Homo sapiens: one gene and its partners. The protein of the gene in region 1 interacts with the protein of each later gene in a pairwise test. Each region holds a gene or a part of one and is shown in the gene's direction. Other genes may lie near its edges. The genes, in order: TTC32, ARID3A, ZNF219 and FBF1.

What was found.
Region 2: the proteins of TTC32 (region 1) and ARID3A interact in binary tests that used the Homo sapiens proteins (3 or more experiments, as listed by UniProt).
Region 3: the proteins of TTC32 (region 1) and ZNF219 interact in binary tests that used the Homo sapiens proteins (3 or more experiments, as listed by UniProt).
Region 4: the proteins of TTC32 (region 1) and FBF1 interact in binary tests that used the Homo sapiens proteins (3 or more experiments, as listed by UniProt).

What each region holds. Positions count from the first base shown.
Region 1 is NC_000002.12:19,895,096-19,899,636, reverse strand, and holds the end of TTC32 (tetratricopeptide repeat protein 32), read left to right. Parts: intron 1-1,601; coding exon 1,602-1,768; intron 1,769-2,510; coding exon 2,511-2,650; 3' UTR 2,651-3,006; downstream 3,007-4,541.
Region 2 is NC_000019.10:927,974-936,661, forward strand, and holds part of ARID3A (AT-rich interactive domain-containing protein 3A), read left to right. Parts: intron 1-1,040; exon of another isoform or gene 1,041-1,172; intron 1,173-1,288; 5' UTR 1,289-1,555; coding exon 1,556-1,923; intron 1,924-4,444; coding exon 4,445-4,769; intron 4,770-8,688. UniProt on the Homo sapiens protein: Transcription factor which may be involved in the control of cell cycle progression by the RB1/E2F1 pathway and in B-cell differentiation.
Region 3 is NC_000014.9:21,094,595-21,103,110, reverse strand, and holds the start of ZNF219 (zinc finger protein 219), read left to right. Parts: upstream 1-4,455; 5' UTR 4,456-4,799; intron 4,800-8,516. Other genes in the region: TMEM253 (transmembrane protein 253), read right to left, coding at 332-478, 596-706, 991-1,047, 1,136-1,246, 1,660-1,767. UniProt on the Homo sapiens protein: Transcriptional regulator. Recognizes and binds 2 copies of the core DNA sequence motif 5'-GGGGG-3'. Binds to the HMGN1 promoter and may repress HMGN1 expression. Regulates SNCA expression in primary cortical neurons.
Region 4 is NC_000017.11:75,936,355-75,945,564, reverse strand, and holds the start of FBF1 (fas-binding factor 1), read left to right. Parts: upstream 1-4,522; 5' UTR 4,523-4,717; intron 4,718-7,332; 5' UTR 7,333-7,415; coding exon 7,416-7,418; intron 7,419-7,971; coding exon 7,972-7,999; intron 8,000-9,210. UniProt on the Homo sapiens protein: Keratin-binding protein required for epithelial cell polarization. Involved in apical junction complex (AJC) assembly via its interaction with PARD3. Required for ciliogenesis.

The sequences.
Region 1 (4,541 bases):
CATTTGGGTTAGGTAACTTGAATGAATTCCATTATAATAAATACTATCATTACAAAAATTTTAATATTACAGAAAATTTCGGCTTCAACTGTTAGTCCATTTCTTTAAAATATGAAACAAAATTTCCACATGAAAACGATTTTAGAATTTGATTTAATGAGATCTAATTCTAAGTCTAACATTTTATGATTCTCTATATTACGAATATATAATTAGTATTAAAAACTTATAACAATAATTTTGAAACTTCGATTTAATGACTAAAACCTTACTGGCATCCTGAGATTGCTTTTTTCTTTAAACTCTCTACTGGGAGCAGTTCAACTAGTGTCATGTCACACATAGGTGAAGGGGAGTGGTACCGTCTTGTAATCTAGGTTTTAACGGGGGTGCTTAGTGGCATCCAGAAGTATCCCTACATCCAGTCTCCATCACAGCTCATAGAATAGACGTTTTCTAAAATTGCGACAGTTCCTCTCCATCGTTAGCAAACTTGGTTTGAAGGAGGCCCTTGGGCTGTGAGTGCCTCTTAGGGTAGCAGTAGTTACAGTCCCTGTCTGAAATCTCAAGGATCAAGATATTAAGAGAAGTAGCTTTTATTTACACTAACTGCCTTCACAGATACTTTCGGAGGACTATACTTTTTACTACGGGGTATTACAAAGAAGTGACAGATGAATTCTCTGTTTGGTTCTAATTTGAGAATTGCTTTGGGAAAAAAGAAAGGGAAACAGAATCATCCCTGACTCAGAGCAGAGGCACTAATGTTCTCTGTGCAGACTATTTGTCCTGTGCAGAGAAAGGTTCAAGGCAGCCAGGGGCTGTGACCTGTTGAGCTGGTGGCTGGTCAGAGCTACCTGGCTGTACAGCCCAGGAATGGCTGCTAATTTAAAGCTCTTTGGGCAACCTCTAGTTCCCTCAGGTGCAGAGCCAGTTCTGCACAAAGGACATCAAAATTGACTGGAGCCCTGAGGGGGTCTAAAGGAGCCCACCCTCCTAGCAGGAAGCCAGCCTGGCATTGGGGAGGATGCCAGCTGAGGCTGGAGGGAGGGCAACTCTGTCCCCAGAGATAACTTCCTGGGGATCGTAGCATGTTGAATTTTCACTTAGCGTTAACTTTAGTTTTTTATTGGTGGAAAATGATTTCAAATCTTATTGTTTTAAGATCACTTAAAAATTTGAGAATGAAATTGATTCACATTGTGACATATCCATAGCAAACTCGGGCTTTGGGCTGGCTTTCCCTCTTTGCTTAGTATTTATCTGTTCTGTCTTCTTTGCCCTGCTGGTGTGTGCTTAGAAAAATGAACAATCATTTTAATGTTATATTCAGCAGAACAAATTGGCAGTGAACACACTGTAAAGTTAGTATGCTTTTCAGGTTGACATTGCAGTGGTATAACCCTACAAAAGTAGATAACAGGGTTAAACAAAAATTGATTTTAGCTCTTTATTTGTACGTTTTTTCTTCAGCTTGGATTTTCAGTGTTGATGCTGCATGTTATAGGCTGTGAAGTTTGACAATACCCAAAAGAGAATGAAAGTGGAAATGAGAGGAATTTGGTAACACGGTGTTTTTAATGTGAACTTTTTGTTTAAAGCAAATGCAGCCCTGAGGATTTGGCTACTGCATATAACAACAGGGGGCAAATCAAGTACTTCAGGGTTGATTTTTATGAAGCCATGGATGACTACACATCTGCCATAGAAGTCCAACCCAATTTTGAAGTTCCATATTACAACAGAGGGTTGATACTGTATAGGCTGGGTAAGAATTTTTTTTCTTTTTGAGTTTTGTCATTGACTGTATTCTGTTATTTCAGAGCTTTCAAATGTTGTAAAACTAACGTGGTAATCAAATTTTAAAGTTCTGTGAAATTTAGGTTTAGAGCTTGGAACAAAGGAAGTGTCCCTGAGTTTATTTTAGGCTTTTGATAGGCGTTATAGATCACAGCAGAGCACTGGGGTGGGAATTGGACCTGGGCGCAGGAGCAGGGGTGACCCCATTACTTTGTGCTTGTGCATTCCCAGCTGTGAAATGAGGGCAATTCAGATGTTCACCTGTGAAACTTTTCTGAGTTAAAATCTTTGAAGACACACAAGACAATAGAAAGTGAAGTTTAGATTCTTGGATTAAAGGGACCATAGGTAGTGTTTCTTCATTTAAAGTGTCAAAAAGAAAATTAGTTCCCGTTTCTTAATTTTACTGCAATTATGTAAAACAGGTGATACAGTTTTATTAAAATTTTAAGATGATTGATAATATTTACCTGTTAAATCTCAATAAATAAACCCATAGCTAATTTTAGGTGTATTATTCCCTAAGGGCACACAAAATTACTTTGATATACACATCTCTATATTATTAAGATAAAAAGATTCCTTTACTAGAAGTGACTGAAAGCTCATAAATATAAAAGCAAAAGTACATGTATCAAAGCTTTTCCATGAATAATATATAGAAATACTCGGTTTCTTTTCTCTTTTCCATTTTTTGGGTTCTGGTACAGGATATTTTGATGATGCTTTGGAAGATTTCAAGAAGGTCTTAGACTTAAATCCTGGATTTCAAGATGCTACTTTGAGCTTAAAACAGACTATTCTAGACAAAGAAGAAAAACAAAGAAGAAATGTTGCAAAAAATTATTGATATTTTTAACTTAATGGAAGTATTGATTCATGATCCTTACATCTGCATCTAGTTATCAGTAATTTAGATATTGAGCTATTTTGATTTATATTTAAGAAATTAATACATTAGCACTGAAAGTTAAATAGTGTGTTTAAGGTAGTTAATTTCAGGTTGAATGGGTTTTTTTTAATGAAGTGTAAATAATACCAATGTATAAGTGTATATTATTATATTAAATATTATAGTAAAAAGGAATGTGTGGTATTTTCTTCAGCAAAACTATTTTTGTGATTTTTTTATTCTCAACTTTTTATTTAAAAAATGTTACATCTGCAGAAAAGTTGAAAGTATAATAAACTCTTCAGTTAAATTCATGAGTTGTTAATATTGTGCCACATTTGCTTTTTCTATTTAAATATATAACTTTTTGCTGAAACATTTGAAAATAAGGTGACGAGGTCACAGTACTTCGCCCCTAAATATTTCAGCCTACATTTTCTAAGATTGAGGACATCCTCCTTTATAACCACAATACCATTATAATACCTAATAAAATGAATAATTCTGTAATGTCAGCCATATCCAGCCCATATTCCAAAGTGTGTAGATTTTTATTTGGATCTAGAGCCAATCAGGTTTCAATTGCATTTTTTTTTTTTATGTTTCTCTCAGTTCTTTTAATCTAGTCCCCTGTCCATTTTCTTGCCCTAGCATTGGCTTTGAGAGAAAGGCTATTTTATATAGCTAGGCTAGAGAGACATAACATTTAGGCTTAAAAATAAACATGTCCTACAATTTGAAAGAGTTCAGCTTGAATTACACTTGATTTTCTCAAGTAATCATTGATAAAAATAGGTTAAGATTTAAATATTGAACATATTTTCTGTCTCTGGATAATGACAATTGTTATCAACATTTACTGAATACTATAAGCCAAGCACTGTTCAAATCTCCATAATAATTTGGTGATCAGGTAGGAATGTATAGAGAGGTGAGGAAATGACAAAAAGCACTTAGTAAGTATAAAGTTTAAAAATCTTTTATTTTGGTGCTGCCAACAATTAGGCCCTTATGAAGCTATCAAAAACCGGGAAGAACTTGAAGGGAAAACAGACTAACACCAGCCATATGCCATCTACATTTTTTGTATTTTATTGTTGTTTGGCTTCCAAAGATTCCCAAACTAGTTTATTACTGCTATGGAAAAGCTGTTCTGTGGTGGAAATTACCCGAATCAGGAGAAAGGAAAGTTTGCTTTGTGTCTTCAGAGGAAGGCGCAGGGTAACTTCTGTGGCCTCAGATGCAATCAGCAGCAGCAGCCTTAAAATGCTTTTTTTGTGTGTGTATGAGTAATCTCATGAAGCAGAAAAAGTAATTGCCCTGTTTGTAGCTCATAAGTAATATCTGGCAAAATACATGGAGAGTTTGGGCTGTAGGTAAGTGAATATTAAGAGGAAATTAAGTTTCATGGCCTAGAAACAAAGTCTCTGTTTCTGGAATTATTCATACTTTCCAAAACGGTTTATCTTATATTTGTTGGAAATCTAAAAAAATTTCTAAAATTGCATTAAAATGTAGAAAAATCCTTAGGAAAACTTTTTTTTTAAAAAAGCAAGTTTCCTAGACCTTGGGAGGGAAAGCTTTAAGCCATTCCACCCAGAGAAGCAAATGCTTAATGTTTAATTTTATTTTCTCTTGACTCATATTCTCTTTACTCTTGACTGGGATCAGATGGAATATGAAAAGGAAAAATTGTTTAACATTTTCATGTGGTTTGTTAGATTATATTCAAAATTTCTTCATCCTTTATCAGAAAAAAAAAAAAAAAAGTCACTTAAGTTCAGAATCAGCAGTTGCTGATTGTAGACCCAGGCACTCATTTTCTCTTGTCTTGTTACTGGAAATAAAG
Region 2 (8,688 bases), on another chromosome or scaffold:
GGACTCTCTTGTCCGGTGACTGGGGAGGCTTGGGGGTGTCTGCTGTGCAACACTGACCTGGGTGGGGTCGGGTCACAGGAGGGATCTGAGTCCCAGGGGTCCCTGCCTCCTCGTCTCTCCAGGCCTTGTCTGCCCAGGAGCTGTGTATGAGTCTTGGGGGCTCCTTTGCCAGGGTAAGGGTTGGGGGTGGCCTCCTGGGCCCAGCTGCCTCTCGGGAGGGTGGAGCTTTGCCCCCTCCGCTGTCCCCATGATGTGCCTTCCCTCTGGGGTGTCACTCCAGGCCTGTTGGGTTCTGCCCGGCCTGTTTTATTGGCGGCCTGGGCGGGTGGAGGTGTGGCCTGGGCTAGGGGGTGGCTCGGGTGGGACCCAGGCCCCAGGAGTCTCTGTTCTTCACCCAGGCCATTAGGACTGGCCCTGGGTGGAAGGCACTCTAGGCTGGGTGAGTGTGTTGCCGTCCGAGACATCTGGCCCACTCGGGATCCCAGAGGACCGGGAAACTCCAGACCCCTGTTGCCCTGCAGAGATTGTGGGGTCTGCGTGGGAGGCTCTGTGGTCACCCAGACCTGGGTTCAAATCCCACCGCCATGTCTCCAAGCAGAGGATCCCTGAGCCTCAGTTGTCCTCAACCATGAAATGGGACCGCCCTGGTGCCCCCTTCTCTGACACCTGTTGGTGCCCACCTTAACCTCCTGAACTCGATTCATCCCTCCTTGAGTGCCATGGGTTGGGGGGGTACTGTTACCCACACTGTTTTGCAGGTAGGGAACCTGAGGTCCAGAGAAGTTGTGGCTTGGGCGTTGCTGTTGAGTTGTGTGATGGGGGGAGGGTTAGCCCAGGGCCCGTATACAACAGGCGCTCAATCTCCAGTCTGGCCTGAGATGGGAGGATACCTAGATACCTGGAGGCCAGGCTGGGCCGCTCCAACAGGGACTCAGGCAGCGACTGGAACTTAGAACCCACCTGACTGGGGCCCGGAGCCCGCTGGCCAATCACAGGCCAGGAACGCCCATTCCCCCACCCTGCTTGTGAAGCAATAATCCAAGATCTCCTGGGGCAGACAGTCTGGCCACAGCGTGTTTCTCTGTGGCCCCGTGCGGGGCGACCTTGCTACCCAGGCCCACAGTAGGCTGTATGCGAAGAGCCTGCGCCTCTGCCTCCAAGAAGGCCTCCAGGTCTGCATCCTGCATGAGATGGACATGAGAGCTGATCCCCAGGGCCTTCATGGGGAAGGAAGGAGGGGGCTTGAGGAGCTCAGGCCTGCTCTGACTGTGCCTTTTTTCCCCCTCAGGTTTCTGCAAATGCGTGAATGAGCCGGATGCCAGCCTCTGTCCCCTGGAGCCCAGCGTGAGGAAGAGGCATGCCCCATCAGCCTTCAGCTTGAGCCCGGCGGCCCCCGCCCCCGCCCCCTGCCACCCTGCACTGCCCCGGCTCCCCCGCGGCCCCCACGCTGCAGTGCGGCCGGGCCCCCTCCCCGCAGGGGCCGCCCCCGCCGCCCACCCCTAGCGCCCGTGGTGGTGGTGGTGGTGGTGGTGGTGGTGGCCCGGGCCGCAGGGCCATGAAACTACAGGCCGTGATGGAGACGCTGTTGCAGCGGCAGCAGCGGGCGCGCCAGGAGCTGGAGGCCCGGCAGCAGCTGCCCCCCGATCCCCCTGCTGCACCCCCCGGCCGGGCCCGGGCTGCCCCCGACGAGGACAGAGAGCCCGAGAGTGCCCGGATGCAGCGGGCTCAGATGGCCGCACTGGCAGCCATGCGGGCTGCAGCTGCGGGCCTGGGACACCCAGCCAGCCCCGGCGGCTCTGAGGATGGGCCCCCAGGCTCGGAGGAGGAGGACGCGGCCCGGGAGGGGACACCGGGCTCACCCGGGCGAGGCAGAGAAGGGCCAGGAGAGGAGCACTTTGAGGACATGGCCTCCGACGAGGACATGTGAGTTGGGGTCTGGGGCAGGGCCTTCTGGGGGCTGTTACTGGCTCTGAGTGTCACTCTGCTCATCTGCAGAATGGGAGTAAGGGTCAGGTCGCGGGATCTCCTTCCTGTAATTCCAGCAGTTTGAGAGGCCGACGTGGGAGGATCACGTGGGCCCAGGGGTTGGAGACCAGCCTGGGCAACATAGCAAGACCCCATCTCCGCAAAAAATTAAAAAATTAGCCAGGCATGGTGGTGCACCTGTGGTCCCAGCTACTGGGGAGGCTGAGGCAGGAGGATCCCTTGAGAACAGAAGTTGAGTTGTGATTGTGCCACTGCACTCCAGCCTGGATGACAGAGATAGACCCAGTCTCAAAAGAAAAATGGTTTTTTTAGCCGGGTGCTGTGGCTTACGCCCGTAATCCCAGCACTTTGGGAGGTCGAGGTGGGTGGATCACCTGAGGTCAGGAGCTCAAGACCAGCCCGGCCAACATGGCGAAACCCCATCTCTACTAAAAATACAAAAATTAGCCAGGCGTGGTGGCAGAAGCCTGTAAACCCAGCTACTCGGGAGGCTGAGGCAGGAGAATGGCTTGAACCTGGGAGGTGAAGATTGCAGTGAGCCAAGAATGTGGGTTTTTTTTTTTTTTTTAGACAGAGTCTTGCTCTTTTCGCCCAGGCTGGAGTGCAGTGGCGTGATCTCAGCTCACTGCAACCTCCTCCTCCCGGGTTCACACCATTCTCCTGCCTCAGCCTCCCGAGTAGTTGGGACTACAGGCGCCCGCCACCACGCCTGGCTAACTTTTTGTATTTTTAGTAGAGACGGGGTTTCACCATGTTAGCCAAGATGGTCTCGATCTCCTGACCTCATGATCTGCCTGCCTTGGCCTCCCAAAGTGCTGGGATTACAGGCGTGAGCCACCACACCCGGCCAACTTTGTTTCATCTTAGTTAACTTAAAGCAACCTAGCCACCGATGGCTACAGCAGATTCAGCGGCAGGGGCAGATAAAATCTGCAGCCGGCTGGACCTGCATAGCGTGTGGGTCCCCCCAGGGCTGGCTGAGGGCTCACTTGCTGTGGGATCCTGGCCTCCAGGAACCCGCATCTTCCTGGGAGGACCTGAGCAAGCAAAGATGCTGGGCGCAGTGGCTCACGCCTGTAATCCCAGCACTTTGGGAGGCCGAGGTGGGAGGATTGCTTGAGCCCAGGAGTTCAAGACCAGCCTGGGCAACCTAGTGAGGCCCCATTTCTACAAAAAGTACAAAAATTAGTCGGGTGTTGTGGCATGCATCTGTGGTCCCAGCTACTCGAGAGGCCGAGGCGGAAGGACTGCTTGAGCTCAGGAGGTCAAGACTGCACTGAGCTGTGATCACACCACTGCACTCCAGCCTGGGCAACAGAGAAGACCCTGTCTCAAAAAACAAAACTGGCCGGGTGCAGTGGCTCATGCCTGTAATCCCAGCTACTCAGGAGGCTGAGGAGGAGAATCGCTTGAACCTGGGAGGCAGAGGTTGCAGTGAGCCGAGATCGTGCCTTTGCACTCCAGCCTGGGCAACAAAGTGAGACTGTGTCTCAAAAAAAAAAAAAAAACAACCAAACAAAACCTAGCAGCAAAGAAGCAGGTGATATCAGGTTGTACAAACAGCTGCCAATGGCTGGGCGTGGTGGCTCACGCCTGTAATCCCAGCACTTTGGGAGGCCGAGGTGGGCGGATCACGAGGTCAGGAGATCGAGACCATCCTGGCTCACACGGTGAAACCCCGTCTCCACTAAAAATACAAAAAAATTAGCCAGGCGTGGTGGCGGGCGCCTGTAGTCCCAGCTACTTGGGAGGCTGAGGCAGGAGAATGGCATGAACCCGGGAGGCGGAGCTTGCAGTGAGCCGAGATTGCGCCGTTGCACTCCAGCCTGGACGACAGAGCGAGACTCCCTCTCAAAAAAAAGACAAAAAAAAAAAAACGGCTGCCAAGAAAGTCTAGGAGGGTGCCGTGGAGGGGCAGTGGCGAGGGTGGGGCGGATTTCAGATGGCGGTGGGAGAATTCTCCCTGTGGAGGGAAGGGGAGGTGGAGCTGGGACAGCATGCATGGTGCAGGATGCAGGAACCAGCCTGCCGTAATGATTCCCTTTTTTTTTTTCCCAAGAGAGTCTTGCTCTGTGGCCCAGGCTGGAGTGCAGTGGTGCCATCATAGCTCACTACAGCCTCCATCTCCTGGGCTCAAGGGATCCTCCCGCCTTGGCCTCCCAGAGTGCTGCCGGGATTATAGGTGTGCGCCACCGTGGCTGCCTGCGTGATGCTTTTCAAGGCCCCAAAATTCACGCTGTAGGGACGGCTTGTGCTGTTCTGGGCTAATTGGAAACAAAGTGGGCGTCACGGGTGCCCCACGCTGTGCTCATGAGCGCTCTCTGCAGTCTGAGCTGGCGGCGGCCGGCTCTTCCTATTTCCAGAGAGGGAAACTGAGGCTGGGCGGGGAGTGGGTCTTTCCTTGGGCTGGGACGAGCCAGCACCTTCTCCCCTGACTCCTGCCCTCTGCTCACCCCAGGAAGCCCAAATGGGAGGAGGAGGAGATGGAGGAAGACCTCGGGGAGGATGAGGAGGAGGAGGAGGAGGATTACGAGGATGAGGAGGAGGAGGAGGACGAGGAGGGGCTGGGCCCCCCAGGCCCTGCCAGCTTGGGCACCACGGCACTGTTCCCCCGAAAGGCCCAGCCACCCCAGGCCTTCCGCGGCGATGGCGTTCCCAGGGTGCTGGGGGGCCAGGAGCGGCCGGGGCCTGGCCCTGCCCACCCCGGAGGGGCCGCCCACGTAGCCCCGCAGCTGCAGCCGCCTGACCACGGCGACTGGACTTACGAGGAGCAGTTTAAGCAGGTGAGTGGGCGCGTCCCGCGTGGCGGCTGAGGCACCTGCTCCTGGGCCAGTGGGGCCCTTTGAAGGCCCACGTTGCACGGGGTGTGTGCTGAGCCGGGCGTCGAGTTGAGAGCTGGGGGTTCCTGCGGTAGCTGTGCTTCCTGTGCTTCCCTCCTGGGCGTGGGCTCGACCAGCTGGCTGTTCATTGCTCTGATGTGGGATGTGTGAGGAGCACCCGGCCGGGTAGGAGAAACCTGGGGGGCTCCACGGCCCCCATATCGGAGGTGATGGGGCAGAGATGGAAAGGTGGGCCTGGGAGGGAGAGGCTGGCGCCGGCCCGAGCTGGGCTTGGGTTGGAGGAACCAGGCCTGCGGGCGATGCGGGCAGAGAGGCCGGGGCCTTGGTGACGTGGTGACTTGGCCTCCTCTGTCCCCTGGCATCTGTGGAGAGCCGTGGGGGGTTGCGGGCTGCAGCTGGCAGCCGAGGGGATGTGGGGGTGGCTCAGGTGTGGCTGCAGGAGACGCAGGAGCCAGGGCCTGTGAGGCTCCGAGTGGGCGGTTAAGGCTGGGGCCGGCAGGGGGTCTCAGGGACCCCAGGCTGAAGGAGGAAGTAGGGGCCGCCCCAGCCTTTCCCCGCAGGCGGCCAGGCCAGAGGAAGTGGCCGGGCGGGGGATGCTTTGAAGTTGGGCCGTGCTGGGCCGGGCAGATGGAAACCAGATGGTGGCCAGGCTCACATTCCAGCCCTCGTCCAGCTGGGCTCTGCCTCGACCTCTGGGCGCGGCTGGGGGGAGCCACCTCCTCGCCCGGGGCTGGAGCTGGTCTGGGCTCCCGCAGGGAGGTGGATGATGGACACGCTGGGACATGCCTGCCTCGGGGCAGCCCCTTCGGCCCTGGGCTTCCAGAATCCGCTCTGAGGAGCCTCCTAGGAGGGGCCAAGGCACAGACACCCAGGGGGGCCTCCCCGGGGCTCCTGACTCCAGGGGTGCCGGGTAGCTTAAGGGGCGGCCCTAACCCCAGCAGCCCTCAAGAGACTTAAGGTTGGGCTGCCTGGAAACTCACAAATAGTAAAGAGCTGAAAGCCGGACACGGTGTGGGAGAATGGCCAGGGCAGCGGCGGGGACTCGGTGGGGGGGGGGGGCGTCTCGCTGATTCCACCCTGCTCTGTGACTCAGTTTCCCACTCCTGCAGAAGGGGATGCTCCACGGGCCACACTGCCGCGCGTCCCATTCTGCCAGTGAGAAAACAGAGGCTCAGTGTTGGGAGGAGGGGTCTTGTGATCTTTTCTGGGTTTAAGATGATACGGATGAGCATGCTGAGAGTGGATTCTCTTTAATTTCATTAATTTAATTCACCAATTAATTTAACATTCACCCAATATTCGCCATCTGCCCGGGACTCAGCCCGCAGGGAGCCCTGGGCTGGAGGGGCGGGCAGGAGCCGGACGGAGACCTCCATCCCCGCAGGGTTATAGCCAAGCCGAGAGGGAGGGTCAAGGCCCCCCATTCAGTCGGTCCTTCGGGGGTCAGAGGTGAATGGGACCCCCTGACCCTGGACACACGCCCCGCCCAGACAGCCCCGGCCTCCAAGGCCCAAAGCCGATGGGGGAGTTTTGGGGTGACTGGCCCAGACCAGGCAGGGATGAGGGGCCAGGCGCCCTGACCCCACAGCCCGCAGCATGTCCTGAGCGAAGGCAGGAGGCAGAAGCCACTGTCTACCTTGTCTGGGCGACACCGCGGGTCAGGGTTGTAGGTGCCATGTGGGGTTTTTCTGCAGCGGGAAGCCGAGATGGGGAAACTGAGGCCAGTGCAGGGAGGGGGGTCACTGTGTCACCGGCAGCCTCAGGTATTCCTGGAGATCCTGCCGCCCCGCACCTGCCCCCTGGGTGTACCGGGCAGTGCAGAGGCCCTGAGGTGGACTAAAGCTCGGCTTGTGTGTAGGGACCGGGTGCCGCCTCTGGGTCTTGCGGGAGACGGGATTGGAACTCCGAGAAGATGAGGGCCTAGGGATGGTCGTGGGCAGCGGGGGTGGGGGGAGGCCCCCGCCCTGCAGTCCTGTGACTTTTTTTTCTCTAGAGAAGGGCTTTCACGGTGTTGCCCAGGTTGGTCTCAAACTCCTGGGCTCAAGTGATCTGCCTCACTCAGCTTCCCAAAGTGCTGGGATTACAGGCCTGAGCCACGGTGCCCAGCCAGTCCTGGGATCTTATCCTGGGCTGTTCGTGGCAGGTCCAGCCGCCGATGCCGCCGCCCGCCCAGCTGGCCAGACACCTGTGTTCCCAGTGTCAACAGTGGCCTGGGCCCAACCAGCCCAGTCAGTGTTACCTCCCGCCCGGCCCCTACTGGGGCCCCTGTTGACTCTGGCGCCTGCCCCACCCCCTTCCTGGCACGTGGCAGGCCTGGCCCGCTGGCCGGCCGCTTGGCACCGTCTCTGCCTCTTCCTCCCAGGTCCTGGCAGGGCTCGGGGCTAACTTCCGCCTGCAAATCCTCGACAGCTGTGAAATTCTGCTGTCGGCTGCAGGTCTGGTGGGTGGCCAGGCCGCGGCGGGGGGCCGGGCGCAGCAGGCTCAGGGCCACGGGTTCTTTCCTTGGACACCTGGAACCTTGCTGCCTGGGGCCTGGGGACGTGCAGTTTTGGAGGCCAGCACGTGTCGGGCAGTGATTAGGATCTCAGCCTCCTGATGTCTGACGTAGCCTCCTGGTGGCCTCCTGTCACCCACACAGCAGGCCCAGCTTCTAGAAAGCGGCCACGGTAGGATTTTATTGGATTATTATTATTTTTGAGGCAGGGTCTTACTCTGTCGGGTAGGCTGGAGTGTAGTGGTGCTGTCCTAACTCACTGCAGCCTCGATCTCCTGGGTTCAAGCGATCCTTCTGCCTCAGCCTCCTGAGTAGCTGCGAGTACAGACGGGCGCCACCAAACTCAGCTAATTTTTGTAGAGACGGGGTCTTGCTATGTTGCCCAGGCTGGTCTAGAACTCCTGGGCTCAGGTGATCTGCCCTCCTTGGCCTCCCAAAGTGCTGGGATTACAGGCGTGAGCCACCGCACCCCACCATGGTAGGATTTTATTTATATATTTGTTTATTTATTTTTTGAGACGGAGTCTCGCTCTGTCGCCCAGGCTGGAGTACAGTGGCGCGATCGCGGCTCACTGCAAGCTCTACCTCCCGGGTTCACGCCATTCTCCTGCCTCAGCCTCCCGAGTAGCTGGGACTACAGGCATCCGCCACCGCGCCCGGCTAATTTTTTGTATTTTTAGTAGAGACAAGGTTTCACCGTGTTAGCCAGGATGGTCTCGATCTCCTGACCTTGTGATCCGCCTGCCTCGGCCTCCCAAAGCGCTGGGATTAAAGGCGTGAGCCACCGCGCCCGGCCCGTGATGGGATTTTACACGCACAGGCGGTTAATCACAGATCTTCAGCTGCTTAAGGATTTGAACCTTTAGTCTCAACAATTCTAATAAGTGTTGAATGAATTTGAGATGAATCTTAAAAAACAGCTTTATTGGGCTATACTTCATATGCCATACAATTCACTGTTTTAATTGTACGATTGGGGCCAGGCACAGTGGCTCACACCTGTGATCCCGGCACTGTGGGAGGCCGAGATGGGCAGATAGCCTGAGCCCAGGAGTTCTACACCAGCCTGGGCGGTATAGCAAGACCCCATCTCTACAAAAATTAGCTGAGTGTGGTGGCGCACACCTGTAGTCCCAGCTACTTGGGACCCTGAGGTGGGAGGATCCCTTGAGCCCAGGAGGACAAGGCTGCAGTGAGCCGTGATCGCGCCACCACACTCCAGCTTGGTGACAGAGCGAGACCCTGTCTCGAAAAAATAAGAAGGATAGGGTGGGTGCAGTGGCTCACGTCTGCAATCCCAGCACTTTGGGAGGCCGGGGCAGGCGGATCACGAGGTCAGGAGATCGAGACCATCCTGGCTAACACGGT
Region 3 (8,516 bases), on another chromosome or scaffold:
TTGTAGAGGTGAGAAAGGAGAAACCCCAGACAGAAACAACTGCTTCCTCCTGCCCAATTTTCTATCCTGTTTCCCATAGTCCTGCCAATATTTAGGCAGCTTCCTAATGCTTTCCCACTCTTTTAACCTCAATCATTTGGATTCCCAGTTTCCTCTTACCCACCATTAGGGGAGAAATGTTCAAAGCCAGAGAAAGCCAATCAGTTTCATTCTAGGACCTCTTCTTTTCTCTCCTGCCCCATTATTTTCCCTTAAGTGCCACTGACCAGGATAGGCAGTGGAAAAATTAGTTGGCAGCTAGCTATTCGTGCTTTCTTCCCTGCCCCCATACCTCCTGCAGCTCTTGATAGTGCAGACTCTGGCTCCTGCAGCATCCTGGTTTCCTCTGGCTCAGCAAGAATAGGGCGTGCACTGAGACCAGCACTCCCCCTAGGGTGAAGGCCTCAGCACTGAGTTCCAGCACCAGCAAGCCAGCATGCTGCAGGTAGACAGGGCTGAGAATGCAGGGACCCCGCACCTGTTTGCCCCTGCCCTTTTCCCTTCCCACCTCCTCTTGCCTCCTTATCCTCCCACCTTCTCCTTCATTGACCAGTACCTGGGAGGAGGCAGTTGGGGCAGGCCCCAAGGCTGTCTTCATCACCTCGACCACCACCACTATGAAACCCAAGATCAAGTTGAAGGTGTTGAATATCATCATGGCCCGCACCTGCCAGTGAGCCAGCTCAGCCCTGCCCAGCCTAGGGGAGTCATTCCAACCTCAATCCCCACTTGCAGCCTAGCTGAAGACAAAACTCAGCTTCTGCTTCTCAGCCTCCAAACAGGGCCATAAGCCCTCTTAACTTTTTTGCTTTCCTCCTCAGTGATTGAGGCCAGTCAGTGGTGACAGCTGAGAGAATGAGTCAACACTTAGCCACTTACTTCCTAGGCTGAGGGTTGTAGGTGTCTGTTTTAGGGAGTGGGAGGACAGTGCTGCGTTTTCTTCCCTCTCACCTTCCAAAGGCGGGGTGCTCTGCGAAGCTCCAGAGTGACAGTCCCAGTGAGGAGACCCTGAATGGTGAGAAGGGCAAGTGTTGAGCTCTGGTCCCGTTAGGAAGGGGCCCTGGGACCTTCCACCCTCCCTTGTGGTGGGTCTTACTGAGGCTCCAGGCCCAAGAGGCAGCGCTGTGGCCATGTGACAATCAGAGTTCAGGCAGGCGACTGAGACAGCAAGGGGCACCACAACCACTGCCAGCCATAGCTGGCTCACCTGGGGGTAAGGGTAGGGTAATTGGGGAGGAACTGTCAGGGATTCCCTCCCTTCTCGTAACTCCTACCTCTTTAGAGATCAGGAAATGGGATTGAATGCAGGGTGGAGGAAAGCAGTCAACCCAGAGCAAGGACGTGATCATTAAAAATTAAGTATCATTTAATTTTTTCTGCCTCATATTGTAGTTTAGTTACTTACCTGTATGTTTTCCCCCACAAGATGGAAGCTACTTGGGAGATTAAGGGTCTTGCCTTGTTTATTTCTATGTTTTCCTCTACCCTCCTCCCATTCAGAACCTAGCTCAGTTTCTGGCACATGGTAGGTGCTCACTTAACATGGATGGATGGATGGATGGAATTGAATTGGGTAGAAGTGGACATGCTGAGACCTGGGATGGGGTAGCCTGGCCTCACCGCTAGCACCAAGAGGTGCCCACTCTGCCTGTGCCTTGCCCAGTGTTGTAGCTTTTCCAGACGAAGGCTGTGTCTCTCCTGCTCTTGCTCACCAGCTCTATCTTCCATGGCTCCTTTGCCCACAAGAATTAGGTGCTTCCTAGGCTGGGAAAAATGCGTTATAGGTTCTGTCTATTAGGAGACAGGACATGCAACAACGTATCTTTCAGCTACACCTCTGCCCACTCCCAATATCCAGGGATTTGAGGTCCAGGTCCTCACACCTACCTAGTCTGAAGCAGCTACTCCAAAGGGATGGGACCCAGCTGGGTCCTAGGTCTCCTAAGGGGCTTGATAGCTCAGAGCAGACGACAAACTTGTCCTGGCAGAGGAAGGCTGTCAGGGATGGGGTGTGGTGGGGCAAAGGTTTCTATGAAGGCCTAAGGATCTAGGGAGTGGCCCTGGGTAGATACCGGCCTCAGTTCACTCCACAAGATGTCTAGCCCGACCTCACTCTGTTCCCATTTCTCATTACCCTCATTTCTGCCCATCCTGGGTTCCTTTTCTGGTTTCACTTACCTCATCCCCATGGACACTATCACTCTGGACCTCAATTCCCCCTCATTTCCATATGATCTTACTCCTTTCTTTGGCTTCCTCCTCAAATTATGTGCCCTTCCCTAGAGATCCTACTTTCTGTCTGGATTGGTCCCCTGTCATTACTACTTGCAGCTTTGCCCCCAGACCAGGTAAGGTTGAATTCCAGGGGCTTTCTTGCCTCTCACTTTCTGGACAGTCTCCCTTCCTTCTTTCTTGAAGGTTTTACTCTGAACTGAACACTGACTCAATGGATGGGGGGGACCCTGTTTATGGTGGGGATTGTTTTTGATTCAATGATAACCTGCAACTGGACATTATCTATCTATCTATCTATCTATCTCATGGTCCTCAAATAGTGAGTCTTGGGAAGGATGCTATTGCAACAATTAATATTTTTGAGAGAGAAGGTGCCTCATAGCCAGACAGACCTGAGCTGGAATCTTAGCTCTGCTGCTTCTCCATCTGTGTGATCTTGGATACATTATTATTATTATTATTATTATATTATTGAGACAGGGGCTCACTGTCACCCAGGCTGGAGTGCAGTGGCATGATCATGGCTCACTGTAGCCAACACCTTCTGGGCACAAATAATCATCCTGCCTCAGTCTCCCAAGTAGCTGGGATCACAGGCACATGCCACCATGCCTGGCTAATTTTTAAATTTTTTGTAGAGACAGGGTCGTCTCACAATGTTGCCTAAGCTGGTCTCAAACTCCTGGGCTCAAGCCATCCTCCCTGCTTGGCCTCCCAAACTGCTGGGATTACAGGTGTGGGCCACTGTGTCTGTCCTGATAGATATGTTTTTCTACCTATTCGCACCTCAGTTTATTCACTGATAAAAGGGGGCTAACAATATGACTGTGAAGAGTTGTTGATTCAGGGTGGGTGTTTAATAACTATTAGTGGTGCTGATGAGGTCACACCGATAAGTCTGATGCCCATACACTAAAAGTGTTATTCAGAAGGAAGCTGGGGACACATTTCTACAGTCGGAAGCAGAACCAGCTGGGCCCAAATATACTCTATAGATCAAAACAAATCCCAGATCTACCTAGGTGCCCTTGGCAAGTTGCTTAATCTCTCTGTTCCCTTATCTATAAAAGGAAGTTAATAATACCAGTCTCAAGGGGTTGCTTTCAGCATGGAAGAGAGCTTAGCCCAGTACCTGGTACACAAGTGCTCAATGTTAGTGGCTATGATCATCATCACTATTATTATTTCTTGTTGTTGACGATAAGAGGAGACTGCGCCAGAAGACTCTAGAAGTTAGTACGAGGAGGGAGGCAGGGTCCTGGGAGGCAAGTGATCTTTTGTAAGCCACTCCTGCCCCATCAGTGCTGTGCCAACATCGGCGGGTCATTGTATCTACTCTTTTCTTTCCCGGGGAGTGGGAGTCACGTTTTAAAGAGATCCAGAAAACTGCTGTGTGTCTACTCCTCCTCAATTCCCACGTGCATTGATTTTATTTGGTGGCGATGTGAGATGTTGGGCTTGCACTGAGGATCCCCGAGCCTGCAGGCCACTGGGGAAACAGACTTCCTGAAGCCTCATTTTTCTTACTTGTAAATGGGGGCTAATTTAATTATAGAGGGTTATTGGAAAGATTATATACTATTAGATAGGTGAACAGGCATTCAGTAAATATTGACTAAATCTGAGTATACTACTTACCAGTTTGTAGTCTAGACTACAATCGCCTGGAAGGAAGGTACCACTTCTTTCTCATCCCTCACAGCGCTGAGCCCAGTGCCTGGCACTTAGTAAGCACTCAGTAAATATTTGTTGTATTGAAGAGCCATTAAAGTGACTTGAGGAATGGAAAATAGAATTCGAGAGGAAGGCGCAGGAATTGTTTATCAAGAACGGAAAGGACCGAAGAGTAACTTTAATAATGTTTCTTATACGGCCGACATTAACTATCTCTATAATCGCCCCTCCTCCTCCCCCAAAAGAGAGACAGAAATTGTAAGGGAGAGGCTTTGAGATAAAACCCCAGGAAGAACTTCCCGAGTCTGTGCATGTTGGGGCAGAAAGAGCGGCAGAGCCAACTCCTTCCCTGGTATGTCCGGGTTTAGGGAGGGAGGGGCAGTGCTGCTTGGAGGCTGGGGGAAGGACGAGATGACCTTTCAAAATCTCTTCCAGTCTCCTGTTGGAATCCTCTGTGCGCCCCACCCCCGCTCCCTCCCTTCCTCCCTCCCTCCGACAGCGCCCCCCGTCTCCAAACCGCCCGCACCCCGCCCCTGGCGGCCGCCTCTCGCGGCTCCCGGGGTCCCCAGCTCCCTGTCCCCGGAGCCAGAGCCCGGCTCCCGCGCGGCTCCCAGCCCCGCCGCGCCGCCCCCCGCATGCTAATGGCCGGGCCGCCTCCCGCCGCACACAATGCGGGCCAGGGCCGGGGGCGGGGGACCGGGGAGGGGGCGGGGGCCGGGCCGGGGGCGGGGGGGCCGGGGCCCGGCGCATCTCCCCCGGCCCCACGTAACGCTGACGCCCGCGCCGCCGGCCCGCCGCCCGCCGCCGCCGCCGCCGCCGCCGCCCGCTCCGCCGCCGCCCGCCCGGGGCTCGTGAGTAGCCGCTCCCCCGACTCCCGGGCCCCCCCGTCCGCCACCCGGCCCCCGCCCCCGGCCCCCTCCCCCCTCCCGGAGGGGGGGCCCGCTCAGCGCGCCCGGCTCGGAGCAGGTGCAGGGGGCGGGGGCGGGGGAGGGGCGCCGGCTCGGCCCCAAGCAAACTTCGCCCAGAGCTCCTGGGGGGGCGGGGTGGGGGTGGCGGCCTCGGAAGCCTGGAGAGCTGGGGGGCCCCAAGGGAGGGGGGGCCAGGTGGAAGAGCTGGGGGAGCAGACACCAAAGGGAAGGGCCAACGGGGGGGATGTGGCGGGGGAGGTGGCGGGTGTCTTTGTAGGGGCCCGAAGGCAGGGCGCGAGGGACCTGGGGGTGAGGGGCGGCAGAGCCGCGAGCCTGAGTGGATGTGCACCCCCCAACCCCCGGCCCAGGTAGGGCTGGTGGGGGAGGGGGAAGGAGCCCAAACTCTCTGGAAGCACGGGGTGGCGGGGGAGGGGAAAGGATGGGGGGTGCTTCCCTCTTTGCGTCCCAAACAAAGTGTCACAAAGAGCTCGGCCCGCGGCAGCAGCGGAGGCGGCTGTAACTCAGCTTTTGTTCTCCTGGCCGGGGGTAGCTGAGCCTTGGCCTCCCTATCTCCCAACCCTGCCCCCCATCATCCTTCTGGCTTATCTTCCTGGGGAGGGGTCTGGGGTGCTGCTGGAAAAACCTCTCCGGCAGGATAGCAGGTCCTACCCTACTTAGCAATCTATTTCTGGGAGGGGGATTTTCCCAGAGGCTCCCTTGATCGCCCCTACCTCCCAGTCTGAGGACCGAGGCTCACGTGGGTGCTAAGACTGACTTTTCTAGGGTCAGCTCCACTTAAAGGGACTTAGGGCTGGCTACATGCCCCTCTTTCCCAAACCCAGGTCTTCCAGAACTTTCAAAATCAAAATCGGGGTTGCGTTAGGACATGCCTCTGGGATAAGATTCCCCATGGTGGGATGGCAGCAGGTGAGCAGGTGTGCCTTCCTCTCGCCTCCTGCTGTACCTTTGAAGTCCATGGCTGAGGTTCCATGTCCCTAACTCAGGAGAGTGAGGACAGAGGGAAGGAGGCTTTACCAAGATCTCAGTCTAAAAAGGCTGGTGAGCTGCAGAGTGGAGCGGGTTAGGAGGAGCTATCTGAGCAGTGAGGTTCAGAGGGCCATGGAGAGGAGACCATAAAAGTGAACTACTGGTGTGTCTGTGTGATCAAGGTAGTCTTTTGAACGTAGACCGCCCTAGAAGCTCCCTTTCCTTTTAACCCCATCTAGTGCAGTGGTAATCATAATTGTTAGCAGATTTGGGAGGTCTAGGATTCTCAAGAGGGAAAACCATCGTGTTAGAGGTGACCAGAGGCAGTTACAACTGGACCCCAGAAGTCCTGAACCCTTGCTCCTTACACTTTGACCCTAAAAACTTTTGAATCACAAGACTTGAGGGACAGTCTTTGTGGTCCATTTAGCAAATACTTCTATGTACCTGTCCTTGTTGTTTCTAAGTCTTTTCACCAACCATTCCATCCTTCTCTACTGAGTAAGGTTTAGTGGTCCACACCCACTTCCCTACCAGCTGCCCCAGCATGTAAGGATAATTGGCCTACTGCTTTTGAAAGGTTTCTGATATCTATCCCTGGCCCCGCATCCTTATAGAATCCAAATAAGGGCAAGATAACCCCTGATTCCCAGTGGGGGTGGAAAGTAGGTCAGTGCTGCTGTCTGGCCAAGTCTCGAGGATGGTGTTTAAGGCCTGACTATAGAAAACTCTGTGATTATTGTCCAGGGGCAATATATGCATGACCTCGGTTCCAAGGCAGTTCATAGTATCCCAGTCCCTGTCAGTTCTTTCCCCTACTGAGAAAAAAATCATGGGATCAGGTGTCTGGAACCTGGTTTGATATGGAGATGATTCAGATCTTCATTGGGCCTAAGAAGGTATCTCAGTGAGTTTTGTTGATTTTAGGCCACCTTCTGGGGAAACTTTCCGTGCTGGGGAATTCAGCTTCAGTTTGGGCCTTCTTGTATATCACTCTATTTCTGTTCTGGAAACTGCTATGTGCAAAGTGGTTTATTGTTGTTTTGTTTTGGGATAGGAAGCTTTGCCCTTTTCTGACTCTTCTTGCCTCAGATATGAGGCCAGCTTCCTAAGAGATTTTGCTTGCTATCCTACAGACAGTTTTAGGGGCCCTAGAATCTTCTCAGAATGAGAGTATGTGCCCATAGGTTAGTCAGCTATGACCATGCAGTATTCCCAGCCCCCCCGCCCCACGCCTCCACCATCTGCTTCCTCTGAATATACCAGATTGGCTGTACACCAGGATGTTCCGGGAATCCCCAGGAGAGCAACAGAATGTGATGGACCCAAATATGATGCCTCAGTAACTCATTCCAGGATGTACAAACTGTAACTGTCAGGATGCTCCTTATAGCTAATTAAAATTCTTCTAGTTACATCTATTTTCTATTAGCTCTTTCTATTTTCAGTGACATCTAAAAGGCCAAAATAATCCCTCTGGTACCACTGGGTTTTTTTCTATGGTTTTCAGATAGGAACGAAAAAAAAATGCTCTAGCTTTTCTGTGTTGTATCTGCGATGCTAAAATGGCAAACAGCCCCTCTAGCACCTCATAGCTCTATCTATGGTACTGAGGTGGCCCAAGTGGCTTCTGTGGTAGCCCACTGCACTCTCCATGGTACTGAAGGGATGACCATTTGTTTTAACATCTCTCTGGGGTCCAAAAGAGTCCTGTGACTTAGAATCACAAACTTTTTTCGAGCAGGAAGGGACTAACACTATAAATTAGTCCAATCCCCTTATTTTACTGATGAGTAAACTGGGAGGTTAAGTGATTTAGTAAAGGTTGTAGGGTTATCAATGTTCAGACTAGGCCTACAATAGCCTTGTACCCTTCAGTCCTATTCTAATTCACCTTTTGTGACACTATTCAGTAAGCCTGGCTAGGCTCTTAGTCCCAGGAAAGGATCCAGAGGATGAGAGTGGGTGCCCTAATTTGAAGCTACAGAAATACACATATTAAGTGGTAGTGGAGGTCGTCTAGTGACCCTTGGACAAGGACACTTTGTTAATTAATCATCTGCTAATAATAATCCTATAGCCCAGATTCCACATGTAACAGGTACCTGCCCCTTCATGGAGTTTTACCACATCCACTAAATGTCAAAAATTAAAGAAGCCTTGGACCTCCAGAGCCTTTTCTCTCTGCTGACAGGCAGGTTGACTCCTGGCACAGTTCTTTTCTATTAAAGATCCTTAGGCAAAGTAATGCTTGCATCTTTTTCTTTCTCAGTAACCCATTTCAGTTTTGTGATGCCTATTGTAAGGAAGTTCTTTATATCTCAAATATCCTTTCTTAGACAAAAAAAAAAAAAAAAAAAGGTTAGACCCACATTCATTTAGCCTTGACCAGATACTATTCTATATGAGGCAGAAAGGTAGACTAGATGACTTCTGGTCATCCTCCCAGGTCTGTTTCCATGAATCTTGATTCTGGGGTTTCTTCTAAGTCCTCATGCTAAACTCCTCTGCAGCTTAGGATCAGCACCCGCCCCCCCCCCCAACCCCTATCCTCTTCCTCTCAATGATCTTCTCCTTCCCCAGCACTGGAGCTCTGCAAGTCCCAGGCCTAGGGAATTTTAGCCTGGAGAATTTTAACCCTTTCCTGCTCAGAGCATGTGCTGAGTCCCTATC
Region 4 (9,210 bases), on another chromosome or scaffold:
TTGTTTTGTTTTTTTTTAATCTACGCCATATGCCTCATGAAACCAGCTGTTCTAGAATCAGTCCTGAGAATATGGCTTAATTCCATGGAAACATAACTCCTATCTTGGGACCTGACATAATATCTATCTATCCTGGGGAACTGGTAATATGAGACTTATAGGTTACAGCAGAAATGCTACATGTTGACAAAAGCCTTAATCGTTCCACTGGGAGAACTAATTGATAATTGTGTTAAGATTGAAGATTAACCCTGTGTTAATCTCACTTGAGTCTATCCTGACAGTAGTTCAGATTCTGGAAAATGATAAACTGACCTGCTAGATGTAGAATTGTTTCAAAATTAGTGTTGAAATACCTTGTTCACAGATGAATATCTGGGCAGGATCTGAGGGTGTTTGGAATGACACCCCCCAATCCAGTTGCATAGATGGGATGTCTTTGCAGGTTTGAGGAGATCATCGACCTGCAGAGCCCCCTTTGACCCAGTACCTCACGTTTTATTTAAAATCTAAATCTGGGGCCAGGCGTGGTGGCTCACGCCTGTAATCCAAGCACTTTGGGAGGCCGAAGCGGGTGGATCACCTGAGGTCAGGAGTTTGAGACCATCCTGGCCAACATGGTGAAACCCCGTCTCTACTGAAAAAAATACAAAAATTAGCTGGGCATGGTGGTAGCACGCGCCTGTAGTCCCAGCTACTCGGGAGGCTGAGGCAGGATAATCGCTTGAACTTGGCGGGTAGAGGTTGCAGTGAGCCAAGATGGTGCCACTACACTGCAGCCTGGGTGGCTGAGCGAGACTCCGTCTCAAAAAAAAAATCTAAATCTGACATTTGATGCTATTTTTATTAATATTGGAATGTTCTGTCTTGAACTTTATTCAATATAATCAAGAATAAAGATAGAGTAAACGTCACTGATTTGTACTATTAAGAGAGAAAAAATATGCCACACAACTAAACATAGGTTTAAATTATGAAGAAATTTAGAATAGAGGTTTATTAGATTTAGGGAACACTAAGAACAAAAAAGGAAGGAGTGATACCTGCCTGAGTGGACAGCTGTAAATCAGCTGTAATTACTGCAGTTGTACCAATAGTTGTGAGTGGCTCCAGTCACTTTAGGAGTCCTTGGAAGTACTTGGTACACATTTGTTGGCTGTACCTTAAAGGAAGTGGCAAGTCCAGTTTGTTCTCTCTACCACACTAGACTGCCACTGACAAGTTTGGGTCTGTTGGATTCAAAATTTTGTAAGCCATTTTCACAAGTACAAAGATACATTTTAACCTTGTCTTCTCCAAAATTACTGAGTAGGAATTTTATTTTTATCTTTTTGAGACAGGGTATCACTGTCACCCAGACTGGAGTGCAGTGGTGGGATCTTGGCTTACTGTGACCTCTGCCTCCCGGGTTCAAATGGTCCTCCCTCCTCAGTCTCCTGAGTAGCTGGGACGACAGGCACGTGCCACCATGCCCAGCTAATTTGTTCTATTTTTTCTGTAGAGACGGGGTTTTGCCATGTTGCCCAGGCTGGTCTCAGACTCCTGGGCTCAAGCGATCATTTCGCCTCAGCCTCCCAAAGTGCTGAGATTATAGGTGTGAGCCACAGCATCTGGCCCAGAGTGAGGAGAATTAATGAGATTTTTTGTGTGTGTTAGATAATATTGATTTAAGCCTTTTTTTAAAAAGTACTCTCAACCAAATACAAAATTGAAAATGTGAGGTTTAATAGAAATGTGTTGGCTATTTGCAATGGATTTTCTTCTTGCCCAAGTGTTTGGAGTTCTACTTTATGCTCTGTATTTAAAAATTAGTGACCTCAAAGCAGAGTTGATGACACAGGCTTTGGGGCCCTCATGTTCTTGTCTTTAGAACATATCACTACTAAGTATCAGCTTATCTTCAGAACATTACAACATTCACCGTGTTCATATGCTTTCTGAGAAGTCACCACTTGTAATTTCAGATCACATACACCTGAAGGCATTTTATAGTTCCTAAAGTTAACATGTTAGATCTTTTTTTTCCACCCCATGAGGGTCTCACTCTCACCCAGGCTGGAATGCAGTGGTGTGATTGTAGCACACTTTGGCCACCAACTCCTGGGCTCAAGTGATCCTCCTGCTTTGGCCTCCTCTGAGAAGCTGGGATTACTGGTGCACACCACCACACCTGGCTAATTTTTTATTTTTTTTTATTTTTGGAAATAGGGTATGGCTATGTTGCCTTGGGCCCGTCATGAACTCCTAGCCTCAGGTGACCCTCCCACCTCAGGCCTCCCAAAGGGTTGGGATTACAGGAGTGAGCTACTGCACTGGGCCAACATGTTAATTTTTTTTTTTTTTTTTTTGAGATGGAGTCTCCCAGGCGGGAATGCAATGGTGCGATCTCGACTTCACTGCAATCTTCACCTCCCGGGTTCGAGCGATTCTCCCACCTCAGCCTCCTGAGTAGCTGGGATTACAGGCACCTGCCATCACGCTCGGCTAATTTTTGTATTTTGAGCAGAGATGGAGTTTCACCATGTTGGCCAGGTGATCTGCACTCCCACTCCCCCCACACTTCCCAAAGTGCTGGGATTACAGGCATAAGCCACAAGCCACCTCACCCAGCCAACATGTTACATCTTAATTCTTGGATTTTCTTCACTGCAGGGCTTTGGGTGGAGAAATAAAACTCTTCAAATGCATGATCTTGGAGATCCCTGTGAATCAATAATTCTTTAGACAACTGCGGCTCAAAATCCCTCCTTTCCCTTTTCCGAGTTATTCCATCCATCTTATTAGAAAGGAAGTGAATTAGGTGTAGGTGGTCTGTAACACCTGCACATCTTTTTATACGTGTAGAGGGTATGCCTGGGATATATAGGTTGTCTTCAAGCAGTAGCTGCTACTACAGCTAGAGAGAGGAGGAGTGCCAGGAAACTGATGACCTGAGACCAAGAGTCTTGTTGATGTTCTGACTTAGATAAAGGTTTTGATCATTTTCATGAAATAATGCAGGGAAGTCATTTCTGCTGTTTCTTTACTACTCCATTCTTGGAGGATTAGAACAAGTCACACTGTAATTGACTAAAACGACTTTTTATTTTAAAATATTGATGGTGGGGTTTTGCTTTTTTTTTTTTTTTTTTTTTTGAGACGTTGTCTTGCTCTTTCACCCAGGGTAGAGTGCAGTGGCGAAATCTTGGCTCACTGCAACCTCTGCCTCCCGGGTTCAAGCAATTCTCTGCCTCAGCCTCCTGAGAAGCTGGGATTACAGCGCCTGCCACCATGCCTGTCTAGTTTTTTTGTATTTTTAGTAGAGACAGGGGTTTCACCAAGTTGGCCAGGCTGGTCTTGAACTCCTGACCTCGTGATCCACCCACCTCGGCCTCCCAAAGTGCTGGGATTACAGGCGTGAGCCACCGTGCCGGGCCAGTGTTTTTAACTGTCCACACTTACTAAATTTTCCAGTACTTCTTCCTATGGTTCATGATAGTAAACACAGAAACATATAAGGAACATTATTAGAGTTACCAGATGTTAGCTGTTGCATATGTGCACATTCCTAGATTCAAGGGTGTTTTTGCCTTAAATTTAAGTGGGTCATTGGTTGTCTTGGGAAGATCATGGAAAATTCGGGATTTTTTAGAATTCTGAACCAAAATATGTTTTGAGTGTTTCTTAGTAAATGTGTGATCTTCCACCTTCCACATTCAGACTGCGGACTACACTTCATAAATGCCTTTTTATTTCCAGTTATGGATTCAACTAAATGACTGCCTTGGGAGCACATAATTACTTTGCTACCTTTTTCCCCCTTTGCTGTTGTGGCTCGAGTTTGGTTCTCACCTGAGAAGATGCATTGAGCATATGTTGTTACCCAGCCCTGGCTTAATGGTGTCCTGTGGGGTAGGGGTGGGAGGACGAGGGGCACGGGGCCAGAGCATGTGAATGGATCATGGTTGGACAGCTGTGACCTGCCAGCACTGCGGGTAAGCAAAACTACAAACCGTTCTTTCCTCTGTGACATTGAATAAACCTTAATAAAATTCATAATTAGCACATACTAGAAAAAATGTGACTTAATCTTTTTGTGGGGCGACAGTATTGGGTTTCATTCTGGCTATACAGCTTTGATTGGATCATTAAACAGGTCAGTCACTTCCCTCAAGCTTTGGGGTGTGGAATAAACACCGGTGAATTTGTGGATTCACCCGTCAACCTCCCAATATCAACACATTTCTCACGCCTCCGCGTCGGCCACGTGTCAGCCCTCAGAAGTGGGCAGGAGGAACTTTTAAGCTTCCCGGCAGTTCCCAAGAGGGCCTTTGAGCCTGGCGCCCTCTTCCCGGAGAGGCGTTGGGGCAGCTCCTAGCAACGTGCCCGCCGCCGGCAGAAGCCCGGCCCCGCCAACTGCCGCGCGCGGCTCCCTGGGAGCTGTAGTTCTTCATGGCGTCCCCACCTCCTCTGTGAGGGCGGGTGAGTCGACCGCCGACTGCGACTCCCAGGATGCCTCGCGCCCGCCTTTCCGCGGGAGGCCAGACGGCTGAGGGTGCCGGCAGCGGCTGGAAGCGGGAGGCCAGTCCTGGCCGGGCTGGGCGACCCGAATGGAGCCAGGGCCGGCGCTGGTCCCAGCGGCCGCACCTCCGGGGGCACGGCGCGTAACAGGAGGCTTCCGGGGCTGAGAGCGTTACAGGCTGCGCTCCGGGGCCAGATAGGCCGGGCGCTCAGAAGGGTGACGCATTGAGGGGCGCGGAGTCTCGGGACGGAGGGGCGACTCCGGCTAGGGGTCTTGCTTAGGGGTGGTCTCGGGATCTGTAAAACGCCTGGCATGGAGTCGGCTGAATACATGTGGGGACGGGGTTACTCTGTAGCCCTTTGGCCTTGGCAAACCAAGCCTAGAAAATCCCCATAGTCTGAGAAGCCCGTACAGGATCGATAGGAGATGCCAGAAGTTCCTTGATGTGTTATGGGACACATTTGGACTTGTAGGTCGTGAAGTCGCCATTGCAGAGAAAAAGAAACAAGGCCGGGCACGGTGGCTCACGCCTGTAATCCCGACACTTTGGGAGGCCAAGGCGGGAGGATCACTTGAGGCCAGGCGTCTGGGACGACCCTGGGCAACATAGGGAGACCCCCGTCTCTACAAAAAAAATTTTAAAATTTGCCGCACATGGTGGCGTGTGCCTGTGGTCCCAGCTGCTAGGGAGGCTGACATTGGAGGATCGCCTGAGCCCAAGGAGGTCGAGGCTGCAGTAAGCTATGAGAGCTGTGATCGTGCCACTGCACTCCAGCCTGGGCAACAGAGCGAGACCCTGTCTGGAAAAAAAAAAAAGAAAGAAGGCCAGGCGTGGTGGCTCACACCTGTAATCCTAGCACTTTGGGAGGCCGAGACGGGCAGATCACGAGGTCAGGAGTTCGAGACCTCCTGGCCAACAGTGAAACCCCGTCTCTACTAAAAATACAAAAATTAACCGGGCATGGTGGCATGTGCCTGTATTCCCAGCTACTCGGGAGGCTGAGGCAGGAGATTCGCTTGAACCCGGGAGGCTGAGGTTGTGGTGAGCCAAGATCGCACCACTGCACTCCATCCTGGGCAACAGAGCAAGACTCCGTCTAAAAAAAGAAAAAAAAGAAAACACATGTATTCAGGGTGGGCTCTGTAGGTAAGCCCAGATAACCCTTGCATTCCAATAACAGGACAGGCCAATACTTGGGACATAAAGAGGACCCCTCTGACTCCTTTCTTCCAGGACATCCTGTAGGTGGGTTTTGGTAAAGTGGAGGAGGGGGAGGGAGACAGCTAATTCCGAGGAAAATGTTCTCAATGGGTCAGATTTACTGCCTATGTAAAGGGAAATATTTCCACTGTCAGTGAAAATCGTGTTGCTGGACGTGGTGGCTCACACCTGTAATCCCAGCACTTTGGAAGACCAACGCAGGAGGATTGCTTGAGCCCCAGAGTTCAATACCAACCTGAGTAACACAGTGAGACCCCGTCTCGAAAAAAAAAATTTTAAAAAGAAAAAGAATATCAAAGAGTAACCAGAGTTCATACCTGCTTTTGTGCTAAATGCTGCCTAGAAAGTAGTCATGGGTGTTGCCTGGGAAAGGGTTTCAGCCTTGGTGCCAGGCACCCACCTCCTTTCTGAAATGAGTACTTGCCACTTGCTGCATCGGCTTTCAGGGTAAGGGATGATGGCCACTGCCCTTTTTTCAAGTAATCTCAAAGCCTCAGAAAGCCCATTAAGTTATCCAGAGCACGTTTTTTTTTTTTTTTTTTTTTTGGAGACAGAGTCTCGCATGTTGCCCAGGCTGGAGTGCAGTGGGGCGATCTCGGCTCACTGCAACCTTCTCCTCCTAGGTTCAACCTAGTCTCCTGCCTCAGCCTCCTGAGTAGCTGAGATTACAGGCATATGCCACCATGCCCAGCTAATTTTTGTATTTTTAGTAGAAATGGGGTTTCACCATGTTGGTCAGGCTGGTCTTGAACTCCTGACCTCAAATGATCTGCCCACCTCAGCCTCCCAAAGTGCTGGGATAACAGGTGTGAGCCACCGCGCCCAGCCTGAGAGTACTTTGCTCCTCTTCTGAAGTGCATCCCCTATAAGGAATTTTTAATTTATGGAAATGGGCTTTACCTCTTGAATGGGCAAAGTGAGAGAACTTTGATAACCCTTGGATTCATGCTGTTAAACCTACATCTTTTTTTTTTTTTGAGATGGAGTCTTGCTCTGTTGCCCAGGCTAGAATGCATAGCATGATCTCAGCTCACTGCAACCTCCGTCTAGCGGGTTCAAGCGATTCTCCTGCCTCAGCCTGCCAAGTAGCTGGGATTACAGGTGCCTGCCACCACACCCAGCTAATTTTTTGTATTTTTTAGTAGAGGTGGGGTTTTACCATGTTGGCCAAGCTGGTCACGAACCCCTGACCTCAGGTAGTCCACCTGCCTCGGCCTCCCAAAGAGTTTTGGGATTACAGGCATGAGCCATCGCGCCCGGTCTCTTTTTTTTTTTTTTTTTTTTTTGAGATGGAGTCTCACTCTGTTGCCTAGGTTGGAGTGCAGTGGCGCGGTCTTGGCTCACTGCAGCTTCCACCTCCCCGGTTCAAACGAGTCTCTTGCCTCAGCCTCCTGCTGCGGGATTACAGATGTACACCACCACACCCAGCTAATTTTTGTTTTTAGTAGAGACAGGGTTTCACCATGTTGGCCAGGCTGGTCTTGAATTCCTGACCTCAGGTGATCCCCCCGCCTTGGCCTCTGAAAGTGCTGGGATTAACAGGCGTGAGCCATGGCGCCCAGCCAAAGCTACATCATTTTTAAGCAACCACTTTAATTTTCTTCATTAGGGAGTATGAGCCTGATGTGGGCAGAATCCAGATGAGCTGGCCAGTGCTGTGAAGGAGCTGAGAGCACCCCCGAGAGCCGTGAGATGGTAGGCAGAGTTCAGAGTAAGATGCATGGAAAGCGAACATGCCTCCCATCCTGCATCCCCAAAGATCTTGACTGCATGCAACACTCTGGGGGCTGGGCGGCAAGGACCAGGATGGAGACCCTGGAGAAGAGTGACAGGAGGTGGCATTGATACCAAACTTTCGACGACCAAGGTTTCTTCTGAGACTCTGAGTGTCCAGCTGGAAGCGTTTTTAAGTGTCTGTCACTGGTATTGAGGAGTCAGGGGCACGGAATAGAAGACATTTCCGGTCACATGACATCTCGGCTGGGAGGGTTTGCATGTCGTGTCTGGGAAAGGAGTGACCTGCCCGCCCATTGGCACCCATCGCTGGTTAGCAGGGCTGTTTCCACGCTCTGAATGAGTCCGTTCTCAGAAACTATAGGAACACATAAAGGACTTACATCTCTAAATGCCATTGGTGCTCTTGCCTCTGGTTACTTGGCAAAAGGCAACGCAATTCATTCTGCATTGCCAATTTCCACCTGTGTTCACTGTTTGGTTTTCTTGATGTGATTTGTTTTTCCCATTTTAGGCACCAAAAACCAAGAAAGGATGTAAAGGTGAGTGGAGAGATGGAACATTACTCTTAAGCCAAATATATATCTTTTTCCCCTTTGGTCCTGGAACAATGAGATGTGTTTATTTAAATGTTTTTGGGCCGGGCACGGTGGCTCACACCTGTAATCCCAGCGCTTTGGGAGGCCGAGGTGGGTGGATCATGAGGTCAGGAGATCGAGACCATCCTGGCTAACACGATGAAACCCCGTCTCTGCTAAAAATACAAAAAATTAGCCGGGCGTGGTGGCGGGTGCCTGTAGTCCCAGCTACTCGGGAGGCTGAGGCAGGAGAATGGTGTGAACACAGGAGGCGGAGCTTGCAGTGAGCCGAGATCTCACCACTGCACTCCAGCCTGGGCAACAGAGTGAGACTCCGTCTCAAAAAAAAAAAAAATGTTTTTGATCAGTCTTGCTGTTCTTCCCATTATTCCGTAGGCAGCCTTGGTCTTCCTTATGTTGCCTCACTGGTCCTCAGAGAAGTTCAGACGTAAATAAGATATGAGGTTTTGGAAAAAATCCTCCTCCTTGGGCTCTGTATCCAGAAATATGTGGTTGGGATTCAGGGTGGGAAAGCTGGTGTGGGGAAACGAATTCGATATTCATACTTAGGTTCCCCCACATGCCTCCATCAGAAAGTGGCCATTGATGAGGACATCCAGACCAGTTCTGGGGGGTCTTAGATGGAAGGGTACAAGGAGCCTACTTGTCTGAAAGTAGCCTCCATGTGCCTAGAAATCTTGGGCACTCTTCCCAGCGAGCTGCACTGGGCTGTGTTCAGGGTCTGGAAGACTGATCTTTGGCCAGTGTGTCATGGTAGGCAGGTAGAATATAGGTTCTGCTGAAAATCTGCACCATCATCCTTTCAGATAGTTGTGTTTTTTTGTTTTTTTTTTTAAGACGGAGTCTTGCTCTGTTGCCCGGGGTAGAGTGCAATGGCGTGATCTCAGGTCACTGCAACCTCTGCCTCCCAGTTTCAAGCAATTCTTCTGCCTCAGCCTCCCCAGTAATTGGGATTACAGGCATGTGTCACCATGCCCGGCTAATTTTTGTTTTGGTTTTGTTTGTTTGTTTGTTTTTGAGACGGCGTCTTGCTCTGTCACCCAGGCTGGAATGCAGTGGCGCGATCTCGGCTCACTGCAACCTCTGCCTCCCAGGTTCAAGCAATTCTCCTGCCTCATCCTCTCCAGTAGCTGGGATTACAAGCATGCGCCACC